Regions from separate parts of the Homo sapiens genome. Here region 2 is linked to region 1. Evidence: fine-mapped expression QTL. Tissue or cell type: whole blood. Region 1 holds a variant in brackets; the other region holds the start of a gene. All regions are shown on one strand. Distances are between the middles of the regions.

The links. PIP is the estimated chance that this variant, and not a neighbour inherited with it, causes the effect.
Region 2: KIAA1614-AS1 starts here. The variant in region 1 is fine-mapped to the expression of KIAA1614-AS1 in whole blood (TOPMed, PIP above 0.99).

The regions. Positions count from the first base shown.
Region 1 is chr1:180,974,376-180,979,579 of GRCh38, reverse strand. STX6 (syntaxin 6) reads left to right here. Exons shown (of 8, transcript NM_005819.6): 8 at 2,934-5,204. The coding sequence ends at 3,010. Among named protein-coding and RNA genes, the nearest start is that of KIAA1614-AS1, 22 kb to the right of the region's middle. The variant G/A (reference allele first, on the strand shown) is at 3,015.
Region 2 is chr1:180,951,908-180,957,019 of GRCh38, reverse strand. KIAA1614-AS1 (KIAA1614 antisense RNA 1) reads left to right here and starts at 2,133. Exons shown (of 2, transcript NR_145481.1): 1 at 2,133-2,352. RefSeq lists an enhancer at 1,898-2,503 and a silencer at 2,539-3,078.

The DNA.
Region 1 (5,204 bases):
AATTTTGCATTTTACATTTAGGTCTGTGGATACATTTTGAGTTAATTTTTGTTAAGGTGTAAAGTCTGCCTCCAACTTCATTTTTTTGGCATGGATGTCCAGTTGTTTCAGCACCATTTGTTGAAAAGACTCTCTTTGCTCTGTTGTATTGCACTTGCTCCTTTGTGAAAGATCAGTTGACTGTATTTATGTCAGCCTATTTCTGGACTGTCTGTTCCATTGATCTGCTTGTCTATTTTCCTAATACTACATTATCTTGATTGATGTTATGGTAAGTCTTATAGTTGTTCCACATTTCTGGAATATTCTGTGCCAGGTTTTTTTTCAGTCTTTTTTTCTTTTTTCAGGTTTCTGTTGACAAATTGTGAAGCTCAGAGATCCTTTCCTTAGCTGTGTTTAGCCTACTAATGAGCCCATTAGGGGCATTCTTCATTTGTGTAGTCTTTTTGATCTCTATTTTTTTCATTCTAGAATTTCCATGTCTCTGCCTACATTATCCATGTGTTCTTGCATGTTGTTTACTTTTTCCATTAAAGCCTGTAGCATATTAATCATAGTTTTAAAAATTCCTCTTCTGATAATTCCAACATTCCTGCTGTATCTGACTCTGGTTCTGATGCATATGCAGTTTCTTCCTACTGTTGCTTTTTCCTTTAGTGTGCCTTTTACCTTTTTGTTGAAAAGTGGACATGATATACTGGGTAAAAGGAACTGTGGTAAATAGACCTTTACCATAGATGGGGTGGTGAGGCCGGGGGGTGGCATTTTCTAGTCCTGTGATTAGGTCTTAGCCTCTGGTGAGCCTGTGCCCCTGGCCCGTGAACTTCACTAGTGCTTCCCAGTTTTTCTACTGTTAGGTGGAACTGGATGGCTAGAGAAGACTGGAGTTGGGTATTTTCCTTCCCCCAGGTTAGTCAGACTCTGGTTAGTTTCTTTTGAGGGCAGACTTTGTTTAGAACAGAGTGCTCTGGAGTATTTCGTAGTGATTCTTTTTCCCCTCCGCCTGCTGGAAGCATGAGGGGATTTTTCCCAATATTCGCTGAGAACCTGGTCAAGCTCCTGGAGGTAAAACCCACAGAAGTGTGGGGGTCCCCTTCGCCTGGGTCCACCTGGAGTGTTTTTGTTTGTTTGTTTTTCATCTCAGACTTGTCCACACTGAGCCTTCAGCGACTCATCAATTAAAGCTAAGGTTTTCCTACCAGAACACTGGTTCCTATGGAGTTTGTTGCTTCGTGGGTTTCTGCTCTGATAAGCTGTGATTCTCTGTATGCATCTGTAGGTTTCTGCAGTTTTAGGGGCAGCAGTTTACCATGTGACCTCACTTCTCTGATGGATCTAAGAAGAGTTTTGCTTTTTCAGTTTGTTCAGCTTTTTACTTGTTACGACAGAGTGATGACTTCTAAGCTTCTTACATACTTGGCTGGAAATTAAAAATTTAACATTTTTAATCAGATGAGAGAATGCCAGTTATAAAAGTTTTCTTGACCATTGAAGTAATAGTTAAACAGGTCAAAGTGTGACCTGCAGTAGGCCATCTCTGCCTTCCCTAGACCTTTGGAACAGTCCTACCTGAGAACAACGAGTGATGGACCTGGGGTCTTTGTCCTGCTCAGAGTTAACTAAATGAGTTTCTAGTATGTCTGAGGTAGACCAAGGTGATCACCACTTAGAAGGTACTTGCTTTACTTATAATTTGGTGGCAGTTCTCTTGTCCAGTTCTAAGACTTTGATATCCATAATATTTAAAATAATTTTAAGTACATGTTTTGCCTTGTGGAGAGTTTAGCAGTTTATTTTCATAGATTGAGATCTTTTTGCAACGTGATTCTCAATAACTATAGTGTGCTAAAATCAGTGGGCTTTCAAAGAAACTTTAGTGAATCAATATGTCTTTATATTTCTATTTAAATGGAACTCTTATTCCTAGTGGTTGTACTGCATTTTCATACGCTAGTGAATTCTGTTATCAGTCGGGCCCTTTGTGGAAGATGCCAAAACTCATCAGTGGAAGGACTGCTCATTTTTTCTACATGTCTCCAAATTAAGGAAGCATCCTGATGTTGACAGCATCCTCTGTGCCCTAGGTTTGGGTATTGCACAGTGTGTGTATGACAGGGTTGTGTTGTTTAATTCTCACAACAGCCCTGCGGGGCAGCTGTTGTAGAGTTGGGACCACAGGATTGTGAGCTGCAGCAGGGCTCCCCCAGGGCCTGTCTGGGCCCTTCTGTCTCACAGGGCCTCCCTGCTCTCAGCCATTTGGATGGACTCTAGTCAAGTTGTTTCCTGTGCCTGCTGTTCCAAATTGTTGGTAGGGCAGAAAGTTTCAGAAAAAAAATTCCACTTTCATTTACAGAGGAGCTGTACAAGGTACTTTAACACAGTTACTAGTTAAGTAATCTTACTTGACTAGGTGTGGTGTGAAATTAATCATGCTGTCTCACTGGAGCTTGCTTTTTCAGCTGTATATTTCCTGAAGTGACCAGCAGTAGCTTTCATCTCCTTTCCCTCCTCCCGTTGTGCTCATTGAGAAAAGAATGTGATTATTGTTTAATTAAATGACTTGACTTTTATGGGAGATTAAAGCAGGCAGGCTTTGATCTGTAACACCATTGCCAACACCTTTTTTGAGGATATGCTAACTACCAGCAGAAAGCTAAGATCCGCAGATTTTAATTAAAGACTTGAGACACAAAGCATGTAATTATTACGAGACATTTTCAGGGGACTGGCAAAGTTGTGACTGCATGCGAAGTGCAGGCCAAGAACAGAGCAGCATTAGAGCATCAGGCACCTAGGCAGGTGTAAGATCATGGCCCCGTCATTTGCACGTTCTGCCCCTTTTCTGCTTCAAAGGGTGCCATAAATTCCATATAACTGTATCTTGGGGAATGTGGAGTCCCTGTGAGAGCTAATCCCCATGTCCTGCCTTCCAGATCGGCGCCAATGGTGTGCCATAGCCATCCTCTTTGCAGTCCTGTTGGTTGTGCTCATCCTCTTCTTAGTGCTGTGACGGC[G/A]GGGCCTCTGGGTGCGAGTTCCTCCTGCATATGAACCGAGGGGAGGAGGAGAAGCTGAGCACGTGTGACATTGCCGTCTACTCACATTCCTATCCTGGAAACATACTGCTGCACTGACTTTTCTCCGTGTGACCCCACAATTGACATGGCTCCTCCATCCCAGCGCTGGAAGGGCCAGTGGGAAGAGGAAATAGATGTCTGCACTCCTGGCTGCAGCTGGACAACAGAAGCCCCATGCCGCCTGTCCAGTTCGGAGGAGAACTAGCTGCTGCCTTGCCTTCCGGGACCTCGTTTGCTGAGGAGGGACTTACAGACTCCACTGGTGTTTTGCTGTTGCTCATTCCATGCATCTTTGGCAGCTCTTTTCTTCTGCTCAGACCCTTCCCCGTGCTCAGACAGTGCACCGCTGTCCCATCTAAAGAAACCTGTCAGGAATACGAGCTTCTGGGTATGTTTCGTTTCCCATTGCTGTAGCATTTCTTATCCCCTGAGAGCTGATGATTATTGAGGACAGAAGGCTCAGAAACAGTTTGTGACAGAAAATGCAGTGTTTCATTTTTCAGGGATAAATGCTAAGATAAAATTGCTTTTCCAGGTCATTTTTTTTTGTGGTAAGAATAACTAATGGAAAATAATGAAACACCCTGGGGTTTGGGGGTGCTAACAACTTGTGGCTTTAACTGACAGGAGCAATTAAAAAGAGCAAGAGGGTTCTGCATTGGCATAGCTTAGGGAAGGGTTAATGATGTCGCCACAGGTCAGCTCCTGATCCTTGCCGACTTGATGTTGCTGTACCAGGGCTTCCTCCCCAGAGGTGCAGCTTGCGTTTTGAGGGTGATTGCTACATATGTTGTTGCTAAACAGCTCAGTAACACACTTGAATGAATTTGGATACCAGATTGTCCTCATTACAGTTCTTTTACTCTTAGGGCACTCTACACTGGGGGTTGGGGTTGGGAGTGGTTAGTACATTTATTACATTTATTAAGAAACGTAATGACATAAAAGGTTAGCTCTGGGCCAGACTTCTCTTACTCTGTGGGTAATGGCAAGGATGTGTAGGTAAACTTGGTTCTTTTTTTTCCCTAAGATGACAGCTTGATTTTATCATCTGCAGTCAAATAACTGAGCCAATCCAAATTTAAATGATAGATGCTTTAATTGAGTTTAAGTAGCTGAAACTGCTGAGACACTAAACTTTAACCTTCTGATGACTTTTTAAAATGCCTCAAATGTGCACATGTATATAGGATATTTTTATAACTTCCCTGATGAATAATCTGATATTAAAGTAGTATTTGGACCCAGAGCCAGAACTCGGTGGTGGAGGCTGCTGGTCTCTCCTCACCACCTTCTTTTGCACTTGGAAAGAACAGCAACATCTGGATAGAGTTCTAGCTTTGACTTCTCATTTCCTTGTCTTTTTGGGTGCATTCCTCAGCACACTTTTTTTTTAAACCTTTTTGTTTTGTTTTGTTTGTATTTCATGTGGTTTTATTTGGGGGTTTTGGTTTTTTCACCCTTTTTTGTGATTTGCAATGATGTGCTTGCCCAGCTAACTTTTGAATTGCACTTTTTAATAAATATTCTTAACAATTTTTGAAGAAGGATATTTTATCTCATTTGAGATCATGGTAGGTTAAGAAAATATGCCTGTTGATGAAAGCTAAAAGCAAATTTATGAAACTAAAAGGGTGATTGACATCCATGTTTACACTCCGCTCTAATGTTTGATATATAAATAAGTTATTTTCAAATTAGGAAAAAACAGTGAGTATTACAAAGGGCTTCAGATGTTTAGAGTACTAGGTTATTTATGTTTTACAAAGTTTGAATCTTCTATAAACTAAGAAAGGGGATGATCCTTAGATTTGCATTAAAATATAGAAGTCTTTTAAAGTAAATGTGAACCTTGTCTAAGTACTGTAATCCACACAACACATTATAAGAAGCAAACCAGCATCTTAAGGAATTATAAAATTACCCTATTTAAAAGCCATGCTATTGTTCTGCTATTACCAGATTTATTGTGCCACACAAAAGGATCATGTGTGTCAGCAGGGGCCGTTTGGAACAAACCTAGTCATTAATGAGTAAGATACTCCTGTTAGTTCAGGGACCAAGTTTTATGACCCAGAGGCTTAATGATGTTTGGATATATTTCAAATCGGCGTGCTTACCTCACTGATT
Region 2 (5,112 bases), 23 kb after region 1:
GTGGTGGCAAGCAGATGTCTCACTAAGCCATCCCTCTAACATGAGAAGTGGTAACATAAGGCTGAGGAGTGGGGAGAGGGGTCACAAAAGCGGTGCCAGTTAGTGGCAGATTAAAGCACTGAACTAGAAGTACCTGGGATAAAGCATGGATATCAGTTGCCTTGGACTTGACCGCATTTCAAGTCCACTGTAGGGTTCAAGAGATCTACTGGCTCAGGGTTTCACACAGGTCCGCCTTGCTGATAAATGTTTTGGAGCTTTTGTGTATTTGGCTGGAAATAAGCAAAAAGTAAATGAGCCAAACCCCTTACTGTATAAACCCAGAAAAGCCTGGAGACTTAGTCTGGGGAGCTCAGGATGAGAATGAAAATTGTGGCCTCTGAATGCCACTCCCATGGCTGCCAGCACCCCTTGTTCCTGAGTTAACACCAGAGCTGGATGGAGGCTGGTGAGCTTGGGGTCTTGGGGGGCATGGGGTCCTAGAGCTGGCTCTCCTGGGAGCCTTTCTGCTCCTTAGGTAGAGTGGGGCCTCCTGCCTTGGGGCTTCCATTGTAGCCCTGCACGCTGGCCTTTTTTCACAACCAAAGCTGTATCCATCCTGGGGATGAGGGTATCCTAAGGGCAGGACAGGCCCCTCCCCAGTGCCTGGCACTGGGCCAGAACCCTAAGGGCAGCTCCACACTGTGAGTAGGGGCCTGAGCCCAGACTGCAGAAGGACAAGACAAAGGCAGGCCCGGCAGGCAGCCTGGCAGCCACAGGAGAGCTCCGGATACCCTCCAGGACTGGCAGGGCAGCTGTTAAGCCCTGGCTCCATGGGCACATATCAGCGCCAGTCCCCGCAGCCCCTTTCCTCAGGGTCCAGCACTCCGACCTGGCCAACCCACAGCCAGAGAGCGCTGGGCAGAGCTTCTTGCCAAGGAAGGCTCTTGCCATTTCTAAGCAGGTGCTCTGGCTTTGTAGGAAAGAGGGAAACTTCTCTGCGGATATGTGGGGGAGGGAGGGAGAAAGGGGAAGGCCTGTTCATGCAGGTGCAGCAGGGCCTTTTGAGTCGCTCCAGAACTAGTCTGGGGACTTGGGGTGGGAAATGGGTTGGGTAGATGAACTAGGGAAGTCCACTTGTTGCCAGGTAAGTTTAGTGGAGGATAAACAAGCAATTCTACCTAAAGAGTCACAATAAAGAGCCCTTGGTACAAGATCCTATGGGATTTAAGGGGAGGAGCCGAAGTCAGCATGCAGTATCGGGAATGCTTCCAGAGACAGACACCTCTAATATTTTTGAAGGCTGCCACGGGGTTTGTGGGGGGACAGGGAAAAGGCATTCCAGCCAAGGCACATGCATAAAGCATGAGAGAGTAGGTGGGTGCATGGATGGGTGAAGTTGGGGCTAGTGGGATCCAGGAGCCAACAAACAAAGCTCCTGCCAATAATACCCACACAAGAATCCTGTGCCCAGAGGCAGTTTGGAAGACTAAGAAGTCCACAGTCGCATCATTGCCCTCCTCTCCTGGGTCATAGGCCTCTTCTTGGCACACCCGGAAAAGAGGTGGAAACAAACAGCTGCCCAGGACACCTGGGCATCTAGGATGGAGGCCTCTTCCCCACTACCCCAGGGGCCAGGCCATAGCCCTGAGGGTTTCTTCTGCCTCCCCGCAGAACAGAGCCATAACCCACTTTAAATTACAACTCGGTACACACTTGCAGAAGCATTTCTCAAAACCTAACCTACCCTTGGCTTGTATAAAGCACTCTAATTTTTATTTTAATTTAATGTTGGTCTCAACCCACAAAATTGCTTTTATAACCCATGAGTGAATTGTGCCTGCAGTTTGGAAACACTGCCCTGGAAAGGGATCTGCCTGCTCTTCTCCAGCCCCACTTCCCAGAAGAAAAACCAAAATGAGAGCCCCTGCGTCCTGGTGAAGGTCAGTGGCGGGCAGGCCAAGCAGGGCCTCCAGAGCTGCTCGAGGGCCTCCAAGGGAGGTGAGCTGCAGAGGGACCCAGGAGGGTGGAAGGATGCTGGCTGGAAGTCACAGAGGGCCAGGTTCAAATCCTGCCTCCGCTTTTGATTGGCTCCCAGACCTTGGATCTATCTGTGAATTAACCTTTGAGCCTCGGACTCCTCGTGCGTTAGCCTGGTATAATAGTCTCTCTCTCGCAGTGTTGCCGTATGGATTCAGGGTGATTTAATGACCTCAACAGAGCTCTGGAACATTTGCGTAGCTGGCAGGGCAAGGCGAGGGACAGCCCAACGAAGGCAGGTCCTTGAAGTCCTGGTTAACACTGGTTTCCAAAATTCGAGCCGGCCTGCGGTTTTTCCAGCACGCCTGAAAGCTGGGGACACTCATGCACCAGGTACTCATTCCTGCACACCCCGCCCCCGCCCCACGGACATGAGGGTCCATAGGTCGCCCCACTTCCTCCCCATCCCTCCGGCCAGCTCCAGCTCATCCTCCCAGTCTGGCTCGGCGCGCCGCCTCCACATCACCTTTCAGCAAGGCCCGGGACCGTGCGGTGCACCAGTAGGCCCCGTCCGCCTCCCCAGCCGTGCGTTTCTCAAAGGCAGGGTGAGCCCAGCAGTGTGTGTGCGTGTACGCGTGCGCGCGTGTGCTGGGGGCGGGGTTTGCAAAACTCCCGCGAGCCCGCCCTCCCTCCACCCTCAGGCTGCAGGCCCCCGCGGCTCTAACAGCCGGTGCCCTGCTGGACACACCCCGCCTCGCGGAAGCGGCCTTGGCACGAAGGCCCTGGCGACCCCCAGGCAGCGCAACGGGCCGCTCCCCTCTCACCCCCGCCCGCGCGAGGCCCCGCGGGAGGACGCGGACAGAGGCTGTTGGCTGTGCTGCCTGGCCCCACGCCTCCTGTCTGCGCGGCGGGAACACTCCGCGGGCGGCCGCGTGGCCGGGAAGGCGCGGCTGGCGCGGAGTCTGCGGGTGCAGAGCAAGCGGCCGCCCGCTGCCTGCCCTGGCCGGTGGGGACAGCCCGCCCTGCCAGGGAGACTTGGGGGGGCACCGGAGTCGCTGCGAGGTTGCCTCTAGTGGCCTGAGGGCGGGGCGGGCGCGGGGCAGCTGCTGAGGGCACAGTCGCCTCCTGGTCGCAGGGCCCGCGACAGACCCCGATTCTCCCTCCCGGGACACCGGGTGCCAGCTGCGGATATCTCTCGCCGCCGCTGCACCCCGCAGCGACAGAGGGGGGCCCCCGGGAAAGAGGGGAAAACCAGCCGCCGCCCGGGACGCTGGTTCTGCGGGTGGCTTCTGAAAATGCCCCCAAGCCCCGAGGAGACTGAGGTGCCTGAGGCAAAGGGGTGCCACTTTCTGCTCCGTGTAGTCCCAGTGTCAGGGGCCTTCTGTGAACCGCGGGAGGGACATAAGTTAGACACCGGGAATACCCACACCTTTGCATGTGGCTGCTTCGTTTCTGTGCCTGAGCCACTTGGCCCTTGCTGTAGCTTCCTACTCGTTTTACAAAGCCCTGCTTGTGCTCACCTGCCCGGTTGGCGCCCTTGCCAACTACCCGGCCAACCACGAATCACGGCCCCAGGCTGTCCACAGGCTACCCACAGGCTACACCGGCTGCAGCTCCTCTTGCAGCATACCCTGCATCCGGCGCTGTAATGTGTGTGTGCCTCCCCCTGGGCTGGGGCCCCTTGAGGCTGCGGGTCTTTCTTAAGTCCGGGGGCTCTTGCCTGGCCTAGGCCTGGTTCCTGGTTAATAAGCTCTCAGTAAGAAGGTTCTGATGGCCCAGGCACTATGGCTCAGGCCAGCACTTTGGGAGGCTGAGTCGGGCGGATCACATGAGGTCAGGAGTTCGAGACCAGCCTGGCCAACATAGTGAAACCCTGTCTCTACCAAAAATACAAAAATTAGCTAGACATAGTGGCAGGCGCCTGTAGTCCCAGCTACTTGGGAGGCTGGGGAAGGAGAATCACTTGAGCCCAGGAAGCGGAGGTTACAGTGAGCTGATACTGTGCCATTGCACTCCAAGCCTGGGCAACAGAGTGAGACACTGTCTCAAAAAAAAAAAAAAAAAAAAAAAAAAAAAGGTTCTGATGTTCCAGTGTGTGAGGCAGGGCTGCCCTAGGCCTTCGAGGTCAGCAGCTCCCCAGGCAGGCAGATGCAGGCAGTTGGGGAAGGTCAAACAGGAGGCTGGAGGAACCAAAGCCCCCTCCCATTTCCACACAAGGCAGGGCCTGCACATCAGGCTGCCCCAGGGAGAAGCTGGGATGCCAGCGCCTTTGCCTCCTTGGAATTAGGTCACCGTCCAGAGGCCTGGGAGCCTCCAGTGTCCCGCGTGCCTCGTGCCCCTCCCCTAGCACCAAGCCTTTTCTGGCATGGGGAGGCAGCTGCAGTGGGAAAAGTGGGCCCCAAGTCAGAGGGGCAGGATTGCATGCCCTGTCACTGCTGCTGAACTTGGTTCCCCATCTATGCAAAATGAAGACAATGAGCAGGACATACCTGGCAGGACTATTTAAGGACTAAGTATGTCACCAGCCCGGGAGGTGATACGCCTGAGGCCTTTTCCCGTCCTCCCAGCCCCAGCCACCCCCTTCCACCTCCTCCCACCTGGGAAGGCAAGTTGTCCTTTTCAGAGAAAAGTGGAGCTGTCTTTGGCCCCCAGGAGCTTTTCTCAACATGAAATTTCTCCAGTTTTGTGACCTTAGGCCAAGAATTGCAGTATAGGAGGAGCCAGGGTTTCTCCACACTTGAAGTTTCTTGCTGTGGGCTCATTTCTACACTTTGAAGAGTGCCAGTGCCCTCTTCACAGCCTGAAGCCCCAAGCACTTGTTCCTCTGGCCCCTCTGCTCACCTGCCAGATCCCCCTAATTCCTCCTCCACCCCCCTACCCCATTCTGTGAGCCATGGGGCTCAGCCCCTCCCTCTCCTCCCATGGGCATCATGAAGACAGGGTTCTACCTGGCTCCTGCTGCAAAGGCCCTGGGTGGGGGAACACACTCCCAACACTGCACAGGACTGCCTCCCCACCCCCACGACCTTGTCCCTGGGCCACAGGCCTGCTTCAGTGTTCTTGCCCAATGAAAGCTGCCCTGACACTCTTTTAAACCCGATTCTGCTGAGGGTTGGGTTTCTTGGTTCCAGGATTTTTTTTTTTTTTTAACCA